Regions from separate parts of the Homo sapiens genome. Here region 1 is linked to region 2. The links come from fine-mapping of genetic effects on gene expression. A gene starts in region 2. The other region holds a variant in brackets. All regions are shown on one strand. Distances are between the middles of the regions. Region 1 overlaps SYNRG (synergin gamma). Region 2 holds the start of SYNRG (synergin gamma).

Evidence for each region.
Region 1: its variant is fine-mapped to the expression of SYNRG in fibroblasts (GTEx, PIP 0.97).

The regions. Positions count from the first base shown.
Region 1 is chr17:37,533,618-37,538,995 of GRCh38, forward strand. It overlaps SYNRG (synergin gamma), which reads right to left. Exons shown (of 22, transcript NM_007247.6): 18 at 4,707-4,803; 19 at 2,362-2,510. Among named protein-coding and RNA genes, the nearest start is that of DUSP14, 46 kb to the left of the region's middle. The variant T/C (reference allele first, on the strand shown) is at 2,404.
Region 2 is chr17:37,606,278-37,611,630 of GRCh38, forward strand. It overlaps SYNRG (synergin gamma), which reads right to left and starts at 3,141. Exons shown (of 22, transcript NM_007247.6): 1 at 3,002-3,141. The coding sequence starts at 3,078. DDX52 (DExD-box helicase 52) reads right to left here. Exons shown (of 15, transcript NM_007010.5): 15 at 3,462-5,353.

The DNA of each region.
Region 1 (5,378 bases), 73 kb before region 2:
ACTCCTGTTGCCCAGGCTGGAGGGCAGTGGTGTGATCTCAGCTCACTGCAACCTCCGACTCCTGGGTTCAAGCAATTCTCCTGCCACAGCCTCCCAAGTAGCTGGGATTACAGGCATGCACCACCACACCCAGCTAATTTTGTATTTTTAGTACAGACGGGGTTGGTCAGGCTGGTTTCGAACTCCCGACCTCAGGTGATCCACCCACCTCGGCCTCCCAAAGTGCTGGGATTACAGGCATCAGCCACTAAGGCCTTCGTTATATTTTCTAACAAAAAAAATAAGGTTTCTAAACTTCATTTTCTTTTCTTTTTTTTTTTTTTTTTTTTTTTTTTGAGACAGAGTCTTGCTCTGTCACCTAGGCTGGAATGCAGTGGCACGATCTCAGCTTACTACAACCTCCATTTCCCGGGTTCAAGCAATTCTCCTGCCTCAGCCTCCTGAGTAGTGGGGATTACAGGCACCCGCTACCATGGCCAGCTAATTTTTTTTTTTTTTGTATTTTTAGTAGAGATGGGGTTTCACCATTTTGGCCAGGCTGGTCTCGAACTCCTGGCCTCAATTGTTCTGCCCGCCTTGGCCTCCCAAAGTGCTGGGATTCAGGCATGAGCCACCATGCCCAGCCTAATTTCATCATATTTTCTAACTACTAATAATATGTAGGATTGTTATGAATTTTTGCCAAATGCAATACATTTAAACTCCTGAATTTAGATTAAAAAATATTTTTTTATCTATCTATCTATCTATAGACCGGGTTATGAGACTGGTTAATTTTTGTATTTTTGGTAGAGACGGAGTTTTGACATGTTGCTCAGGCTGGTCTCAAACTCCTGGGCTCAGGTGATCCGCCCACCTCAGCCTCCCCAAAGTGCTGGCATGACAGGGGTGAGCCACTGCACCTGGCTGCTTGAATTTAGATTTTTAAAAGAATTTCATTATCACCAAGTAAACATAATTTTATCTCTTTTTTCAAATATTAATACTCCATTTCTTATTTCACTTGCCAGAACAGTATTTTTTTTTTTAATTATCTACATACAATTTTAGGTTAGAAAATGAGAAGTGATTCAAGGGAACAAGAAAAAGTTTTGGAAATTACTTAAACTCTTAAAGACTTTAATATTACAAACCAGAAGCAACATGACAATGGTGAGAGGATGTGCTGCTGAAGACATGTAGTTGGGGTAGCTGGGTATCCACCTGGCTATCAGTTCAGAAAATTAGAACTGCTTCCTCCCACACAGCTGCAATCCCATTCAGATGGGTCGCAGAGTTCCATGTTAAAAAAAAAATTGGAATAGCATATTTATTCCAGCTGTGGAAGGAAGATAAACTTCTGACTATTGTGAAATAAAGGATATCATCAGAGACAAATTGAATAGGTATGAATATATAAAAATAAAATAGTTTTGCCCAATGAAATGTAAAAAAGGGACAGTAATAGAGGAGGAAAATAGCTGATAAACGTTTACAAGCTTATATATATGTATATAAATCTATTACAAATATGAAATATATAAGGTCAATAACCATATTCCAAGGAATAAATGGTCAAATGGTCAGAAGAGTCCAATCCGTTTATACACAAAGGAAACAGAAATAGTAAATTGTCATTTGGAACACTGCAAAGCCTCTCATGAAATTAAAAAAAAAAATGTAAAAAATACCTTAGGGAATAATTGCATGCTTGTTAAATTAAGAAATTGATAGGACATAATGTAGAGAAATGTATCCATGTACTTACATATTTCTGGTAGCATTGCAACCAATATAAGCTATTTGGAAAGCCTTCTAATAAATGTAACAACAGCTACATACGCATGCATGCACCTGTGCAGACACACACACTGACCTCCTAGTTCACTTGGAGGAAATACATCCCCACAAAGGAACAGTGATTTGTCTATTCAGAGAACTACTCGTAACAGGGAAAAATGAAAATGACCCAAGAACCTAAAAAAAGAAGGGCTAAACAAACTACAGGATGGCAACATGAGGTATCATATAGCTTTTTGAAAGGACACGTATGGGGACATAAATAACTAGAAGTGCAAAGGGAGTATCTCAAACCACTGCTTTGCAAAACTTCCGTGTATTATGTGAATTAAGAAAGGTGTAGCCAGAGTGAATGTTTTCCTGTACTGGTTTTTTCCTTAGGTTCACTGGGCCTTAGAGAGATCAGAAGCCCACCTGGTACTGTTCAACTGACCACACACCTGTGATCTCCCTCCTTTAATATAACATGCTCCAGTTGGCACCTCCAGCCTCTAATAAGTACCATCATAGGAATATACACTCTGCTTTACAACTTAGGTTTCTGGAAAGGAAAGCAACTGCTGAGTTGTCTCATGGGCTTACTGTGAGTGTGGCGAGTGACATGAAGCCGATTAGGTTATTCCA[T/C]ACTTTATCGATGTCCTTCAGCAACTGCTGGAGTTTCTCACTGCACACTGCAGTGGCTTTTATCCCCAGCTCCACACGCTTGGTTACCCTGTACACTTCAACAACACCTGACGGGATGAGAGAGCAGAGAGAGAGTGTTGGCAGTGGAGACACAGAGGACCCAGACAGGGGAGCATTATTGCTTGCTGATATCTGTGAGAAACAATGGGTGTATCTGGACAGAGGTGTACTTACTATTCTTTGGGACCAATCCACTTCTCAATGCTGCTGTATAGCTTACTGGTAAGAGCATAGAAGCTGCACTGCTTGGGTTCAAACCCCAGCTATGCCTCTTACTGGCTACATGACCTTAGGCAAGTCACATAATCTCTCTGTACCTCAGTTTCCTCATCTGTGAAGTTGGGATGGTAACAGTAGCTCCTCCAAGGATGGTTGAGAGGATTAAATAGGGTAATATGGTAAAAGGCTTACAACAGTGCTTGGAGAATGGCAGGCACTATGCAAGTTATTAGCTTTTGTTTTTTGGGAGGTTTATTTATGAGTCCATCTGTTTGAATCTGGGAAATCCCAATAAACTAGCTGAAAATGGGGATAGTAAAAATTTAAAAGAATCTAAATGTTAATAGCATCACAAAGTAATGAAGAAACATCTCACCCCTCTGAATCTGAAGGTCTTACAAACACTTTGACTTCACTTATCTTTAAACACATAACAGGATGCAGAACAGTTCTTTTCCTATGGTCTCTAAATTGTGGTTGAACTCTTGAAGCAAGGATGAGAGGTGCTAAGTACCTCCACATTCTAAGGACAGCCACCAGACACATCCCTAACCCCTGCAATGTAACAGTCACCAAAGACATGACCCCGATCTCTCTAAGTGAACACTGGAGGAATTCCAGGGGATCTTCAGAGCGGGGCCTCAGCAGCCCTGTGTCAGCACTACGGCTTTTCTTCTTCCTTTCCCAAGAGAGGGGCAGAAATTACTGCCCACCCTAAGCCAAGTGAGGGGGCTTCTAAGAGAATCTTCCATAGATACAAGGATACTAGGAGAAAAGACAGGTGCCCCATTTCCTGGTGGACATCTGCTTATGCAGAACTGTGCCTGTTTGAGCAGGAAAAGAAGACCCCAAGTGAGGTGGCAGGAGTAAGGCAGAGACTACATCCCTTCACTCTCCACTCATCCAGCAAATATTTTTGAGTGCCAACTACGTGCAAGACACTAGATTAGGTGTTGGGGACACACCAGTGAACAAAACAGACCAAAATCCTTGCCTTCTTGGAGGTTCATTCTAGTGAAGGGAGACAGAGAGTAAAAACAACAAGTAGCTAGGTGCAGTGGCTCACGCCTGTGATCCCAGCACTTCGGGAGGCCAAGGTGGGTGGGTCGCTTGAGCTCAGGAGTTCGAGACCAGCCTGGGCAACATGGCGGAAACCTGTCTCTACAAAAACTACAAAAATTAGCTGGGTGCATGGTGGTGCACACCTGTGGTTCCAGCTACTTGGGAGGCTGAGGTGGGATGATTGCTTGCGCCTGGGAGGTGGACGCTGCAGTGAGTCATGACTACATCACTACACTCCAACCTGGGTGACAGAGTGTGAACCTGTCTTAAAAAAGAAAAGAAAAGAAAAGAATAATAAGTAACATATGTAAGAAATTAAAGGTAATAGGGCTAAGGAGAAAATCCAGCAGAGAATGGGATGGGAAGTACCGGGGTAGGGAGAGACGATACTCTTTGGAGAGATGGATGCTAGGAAAGATTTCACTCAGAAGCTGACATTTGAGTAAAGATTTGAAAAAGATTAGGGTCCAGCATGTGTGGCTCTGGCCACGGGCCAAGCCTGAGCTTGGGGAAGGGAGGAACACCGAAGTGGACAGAGACTACACTTTCCCGTTGGACTGACACATCAAATTGCTGCAGATGGCCAGGAGGTTAAGGACTCTGTGGTGTCATTAAGCGGTCGAGAGAAAGAATATAGAGTATGGTAAGGAATTGATGGGAGACAAGATGATTTTACTTTAGTGCATCGGTAGTTCAGATTCTTTGATAAACCAGTAACACAGATATAATTTTACATTTTTGCTATTACGTATATAACAAGGATGAGGAAACTTAGCCATAGAGACTTTTTAATTAAGTCCAATAGTTTACTGCCTGTAGCTTGAGTGTCTTACCCACAAATACAGATGCTTCTTACTGAAGTCATATGTAACTTGAGAGATCTAGCTTAAAATAATTAAAGGGAAAACTGAAAATAATGCAAAGGGCCATCATTTTCAATAGTAAAATATGAAAGAACATACCTAATAAATATTCCATGCCTTGAGCTGACTGAATTACTTCTGTGCAAACAGAACTACTACTGATTCCATTTAAGGTATCATTTGCCTTCTTAATGACCTACAAGAAATGAAATCACATCACCTTACATAACTGAGAAAAGTCATTGCAAATCAATTTACTATTAGTAGAAAACCCAACCGAAAAGCCAGGAGGTGTCAAAAAATCTCATTTTATCCTTGAAGAAACAATCCTCCATTTCTCTGGAAGAGAAAATATGTTTTTTTCCTTTTGTTTTGTTTTGCTTTGTTTTGAGACGGAGTCTCGCTCTGTAGCACAGGTTGGAGTGCAGTGGCAAGATCTCGGCTCACTGAACCCCTGACTCCCGGGTTCAAGTGATTCTCCTGCCTCAGTTTCCTGAGTAGCTGAGATTACAGGCACGTGCCACCACGCCTGGCTAATTTTTGCATTTTTAGTAGAGACAGGGTTTCACCATGTTGGTCAGGCTGGTCTCAAACTCCTGACCTCGTGATCCGCCCGCCTTGGCCTCCCAAAGTGCTGGGATTATAGGTGTTGAGCCACCGCACCCAGCCAAGACAGGTTCTTTAGCTTAAATATTATTTTGATTTAGTCAGAGTTAATGAAATCACTTTGTTATTTCTTAAACACAATGACAGATGAGGGGATGACTGACA
Region 2 (5,353 bases):
GGGCCAAATGAAATACCACTTCTTTGCCTTTGATATAGCTGAAATCCACAAATATTTACAGAATGTTTTTTATGTGCAAAAATGTGCTAGAAGCAGTGAAAGAAGAAAAGATGAGGAAGCCCTCTAAAAGCTTGTAAAAGATCAGGAAAAAATAGACAAGTTCACAGATGATAACATCCCAGAAGAACGTGACCTCTTTGTTCCACTTTACTTTGTACCACAGTTATTTTGTACATTCTCCAAGGATGGGGACCATGTTTTGATGTCTTTTTAATTCATTACAGCATCAAGAACAGTACCTTACCCATGTAAGCATTCAATGACTACAGACTAATCCAGATCTTTCAACTCTTTTTTTTTTCTGCCTTGATTAAAGAAAAAAAAAATTTATACTTCTCATCTCTTGGGCAAATTTTGCCCTTTATACAACTCTACCATTTATTCTAAAGTAGCTCATCCAGGACACCAATCAAAAGTAGGGTAATATTAAATTTGGAAAACGTTATTGTGTTTTGCTTAGCCTCTTAGAATATAGAGAAGTATCTAAACAATACAGTCAGTTATAGTTCATGGATTTTCTCCATTAAAGGTGTAGAGAAGTTGCCTGTTTTTTTTCTTCAAATATACTTAGGTTGCCATAATGTTAAGTTTCCTTATAAAATAATTTCAGGGAGGGTGGGTGGCAAAAAGAAAATTAAAAAGGAAATAAAATAACTTCAGCCTTTACACCATTACTCTCTAAAAAAAATAATATTCCTTTTTCTATTGAGGATACAGCTTCTCAGCCTCAGAAAGTTGCCAATATATGTAACATATGTACCATACATTTTTCAAGGTAAGAATCATTTTAACCACTTCTTTCTCTCCTGTATATCGTTTACAGTTTTAGAATGCAGATGTTGCTACATTTACAAAGGGGGGAAATTTTAAAATCATTCTAATTTCTATCAAAATTCAACCCATATTTATTTTAAAAATTTGTGTCCATGGACCAATGATACTCAAATACTGCAAACTAAAGGGAATAATGCACTTGAATTTCTGAACCTGAGGTCCTCCCCATCCAAAAACATTTTTTAAGTAAATAAAAATTTGGGCCTAGATATCAATTCTTCTAAGTTTACATTTTCCCAGAACTTGGTGCCATGATTAATCATATACTTGATCAAATTAATACCATCCAGGGACATTTTAGAAACTGTAATCACATATAGGAAATAAATAGAGGATGCCGGGCGTGGTGACTCAAGCCTGTAATTCTAGAACTTTGGGAGGCCAAGGTGGGCGGATCACTTGAGGCCAGGAGTTTGAGACCAGCCTGGCTAACATGGTGAAACCCCGTCTCTACTAAAAATACAGAAATTAGCTGGGCGTGGTGGCGCACGCCTGTAATCCCAGCTACTTGGGAGGCTGAGGCAGAAGAATCGCTTGAACCCGGGAGGTCGAGGTTGCAGTGAGCCGACATCGTGCCACTGCACTCTAGCCTGGGTGACAGAACGAGACTCTGTCTCAATCGATCAATCAACAAAATTAGCCGGGCATGGTGGCGCGCACCTGTAATCCCAGCTGCTCCGAGGCTGAGGCAAGAGAATCGCTTGGACCCAGGAGGCAGAGGTTGCAGCGGGTCGAGATCACGCCGCCGCACTCTGGCCTGGGCAACAGAGCAAGACTTCCTCTCAAAAAAAAAAAAAAAAAAAAAAAAACAAGACAAAAGAAAAAGAAAAAACAAATAGAAGGGAATTATTACATATGTTTCTTCTCCAGCCAGAAACTGGCTTACACGAAGTATTTATTTTTTAAAAAACCCTCTAATGAAACAACGGAGAGAACAAAAGAGAAAGCAAAAAGTTTAAAAATCTAAAGTTAAAGATGTGCAGAGGAAATGAAAAATGGGGTTACACACAGGTGGTTTATTGAACAGCCACTGCTCGTTTCCTGACAAGCACCTGCAAGAGGTGATAACTTTAAGGTCCTTACACTTTTGTAGTGTTCACGACTCCGAAATTGAAACACTGCATATAAAAAAAAAACCTAACACTTCGTTTTCCAAAGACAATTTAGGATACTGAAGATGCAAAGCTACTTTTACCTCCAAATGTGTGTGCTGTTGTGTGTTGGTTAGTAAAACAAAATCAGACTAGGTCATTATAGAAGTGGAGTGAAAACTTCCTAGAATAAAATATTTCCTTAAATGATAACGAATCTGTCAGCTTGTAAAACGTACATCTCCCTTACCATTCTGGGTATAAGAACCACGGCAGTTCTTGGCTGAAATGTGGCAGAGGGCAGATTTGTTTAAGGGCTGAGTCTGGAAGCTTTGTTCTAATAAATGCGCAACTGCTGTTTAACAGTGCACTTTCTTTGTTTTTAAATGCCTTTTTAAAAAGAAGACAGACAAGTCTTAAGAGTTAGTGTACAAGACAAGAACTCTATCTCAAGACCATTACTAATTCAGAGGTCTTTAGATGTTCCTGCTGTTTGTCGCGGGTTAAGGAAATAAAGAGGACAGGACACTCTAAAAGGGGAAGAGACAAATAGTCCACACACACACCCCCCTTGGAAACAGTCCTCCAGCTTTGTGAACAGATTTTTAAAGCCCTCCCTCCAACATATCCGGTTAAGTCTAGAAAGCCCAAGGAAAGGGAAGACCCTGGTCGCTTCAGAGGCAGCTAGGACTAGGAGCGGAGTCGCGGTTCCTGATTTGCCCCGCCCCCCCCCACCCCAAGAGGACCCTCATCTTCTCTCCCCTCCCACACTGGGCGCGCGCTCGCTCCCCGCTCGATTCCAGGCGGCCGGCGCCCCCAACTGATCCCGGAACACCAGCGTCCAGCACCTGGGCTCCACACGCCCCTTTCGGCCTGGGTCCCTGGGGGATGACCCTCCTCCCGCAGCCCAGTTCCAAGGAAAAGGATCAGGGCTGGAGAAAACTGCCATAACTGCCAAGCGCCCCTCGCCGCCCCCGCGGAGGCCAGCGGGCTCCCGCCCGGCTCTTCACACCTACCCGCCTCCCCCGGCGGACCCCGCGCCAGCTCCCGCGGCCCCGCCGCCACCAGAACCAGCTCCTGGCCGCAGCGCCATCTTGCTCCCGACCTGCCGCTGCCTTCGCCGCCGCCACCTTATCAGCAGCTGTCAGCTGAACACAGCCACTTCCGGGTCAAACACCAGGCCCCACCTCGCCGCGGACCGGGCGATGGGGCGGGGCCTCGCGCCCACGTGACTCCCCCGGCCCTCGGGGAGGCGTGGCGCGCCCACGGCACGTGACCCGGCGCCGCAGGGGTCCCCCAGATTCAATTCTAGCTCTCGGGCTGGTGGGGCGGTCGCGGGCGCCTCTCCAAGGGAGCTGATTCATTGTCTGGTAGGCCCTCTGCAGGGCCCAGCTGGCGGCCCAGTGGCAAAGCGCCGTTGGTCCTCCGTTTGAAAACCATGATCGCGGTTAGTGGAAAGAGTAGGCTGAGTCCTGATTTTTAAACTATACGGTGGGTACACTGGTGTTCTTTTATTGTTACTCTTTACACACAAAGAACAGATAGGTCCTGAAGGGCCCTTTGATAGTCTCGCAGCACTGATGAGTGATCAGCTCTCCCCTCTTTCTCTGGAACTCGGTAGCTTCATGTTGGCACCTATCACAGACGCTGAAGGCATTTAAATTTTATTTTAAATCAACCAAGAGCCCAAAAACCCAACCCATATTTCGAAAAAACTCCAAGGTGTACTACTCTTGTTTGGTTCTGCCATCCTGCCACCTTACAGTCCTTTTGTTTTTCCTATTCTTGCAGGCAAGTGCAAAACAGTGGTTTTTGGAAGGCAATTCATAATTACTCTGAAGCTATTTCGGCATATTTTTTACTGATTTTTTTTTTTTTTGAGACAGGGTCTTGCTCTGTTGTCCAGGCTGGAGTGCAGTGGCATGATCATGGCTCACAGCAGCCTCAGCCTCCCTGGCTCAAGCGATCCTCTCGCCTCAGCCTCCTGAGTAGCTGGGACCACAGGCATGCACCACCACACCGGGCCAATTTTTTTTTTTTTTTTTTTTTTTTTTTTTGTAGAGATAGGATCTATGTTGCCCAGGCTAGTTTCAAACTGCTAGGCTCAAGCTATGCTCCCACCTCGGCCTCCAAGTGCCAGGGTGTGAGCCACATGCCTGGGCTGTGATTTTTTTTTTTCTTTTAATCAAACTACTGTCTGGAAGTAAAACATGAAAGTTGAGTAATTTTCTCAAGCACGTAGTTTGCTTGCTAACAAGTAATGGATTAATTAGCTTTACGTTTTCACTCTTGTCTCAAGGTTTTTACTGGGTAATAATTTGTAATAAGTTATTAGGCACAAACCACTGGTCAGGAACTGTACACGCATTTTAAAAAATCCTCAGTATCCTTAGGAGTTACAATTGGCATCTTACAGATGAGAAAATCAAGGTTAGAAACAGTTACTGTCATTTGTCCAGATCATACAGCTACAAGCAATGAGGATCAGGATTCAAATCCAGGCCAGTTTGACTCTAAAGTCCTTGCTCATTTCACCAGAGCCAGCTATTCAATTTTTATGTTTTTTCTTTTGCTGTAACTGCCTGTTCACTAATTTCACTCCTTCCCTTCCTTGTGTGAAGCTGAAATTTATGTAGCACATAGTTCCAACTGCTTTGAAGGAGCTAAATTTAGTATTAATACACTGACTAAGTTGATACAGGTTACTGTAGATACTTTAAACAGACACAATAAAGTCAAGGATCATAGATGTGACCTCAGTTTGTCCTGGAATCCTTTTTGTTCCTCTTCTTTGCCTATTGGTTTTTACATTTGCAGGATTCAACTCAGGATGTCGGCCTTCCATGACATCCCCAATCTGGGTTAGATGCCCTCTTGTGATGCTTTAGCATCATGGCCTTACATCTAACAGAGCACTTGCCACACTAGTCATGTGCTACATGATGATGTTTTGGTCAGCCACAGACAGCAGATACAATGGTGGGATGAGAAGTGGGGGTGGAAGACAGTGAGACTGATGATCCTGACCTTTTGTATGCCTAGCATAATGTGTGTGTTTGTGCCATGGTTTTTAACAAAAAAGTTTTAGAAGTAAATAGTAAAACAAAACAAACAAACAAAAATTAATAGAAAAAAAGCTTCTAGAATAAGGATATAAAGAAATAAAGTATTTTTCTACAGCTGTACATTTGCATTTTAGGCTAAGTGTTATGACAAGAATCAAAAAAGTTTATAAAGGCCGGATATAGTGGCTCACTCCAGGTCAGGAGTTTGAGACCAGCCTGGCCAACATGGTGAAACCCTGTCACTAAAAATACAAAAATTAGCTGGGTGTGGTGGCGCATGCCTGTAGTCCCAGCAACTCGGGA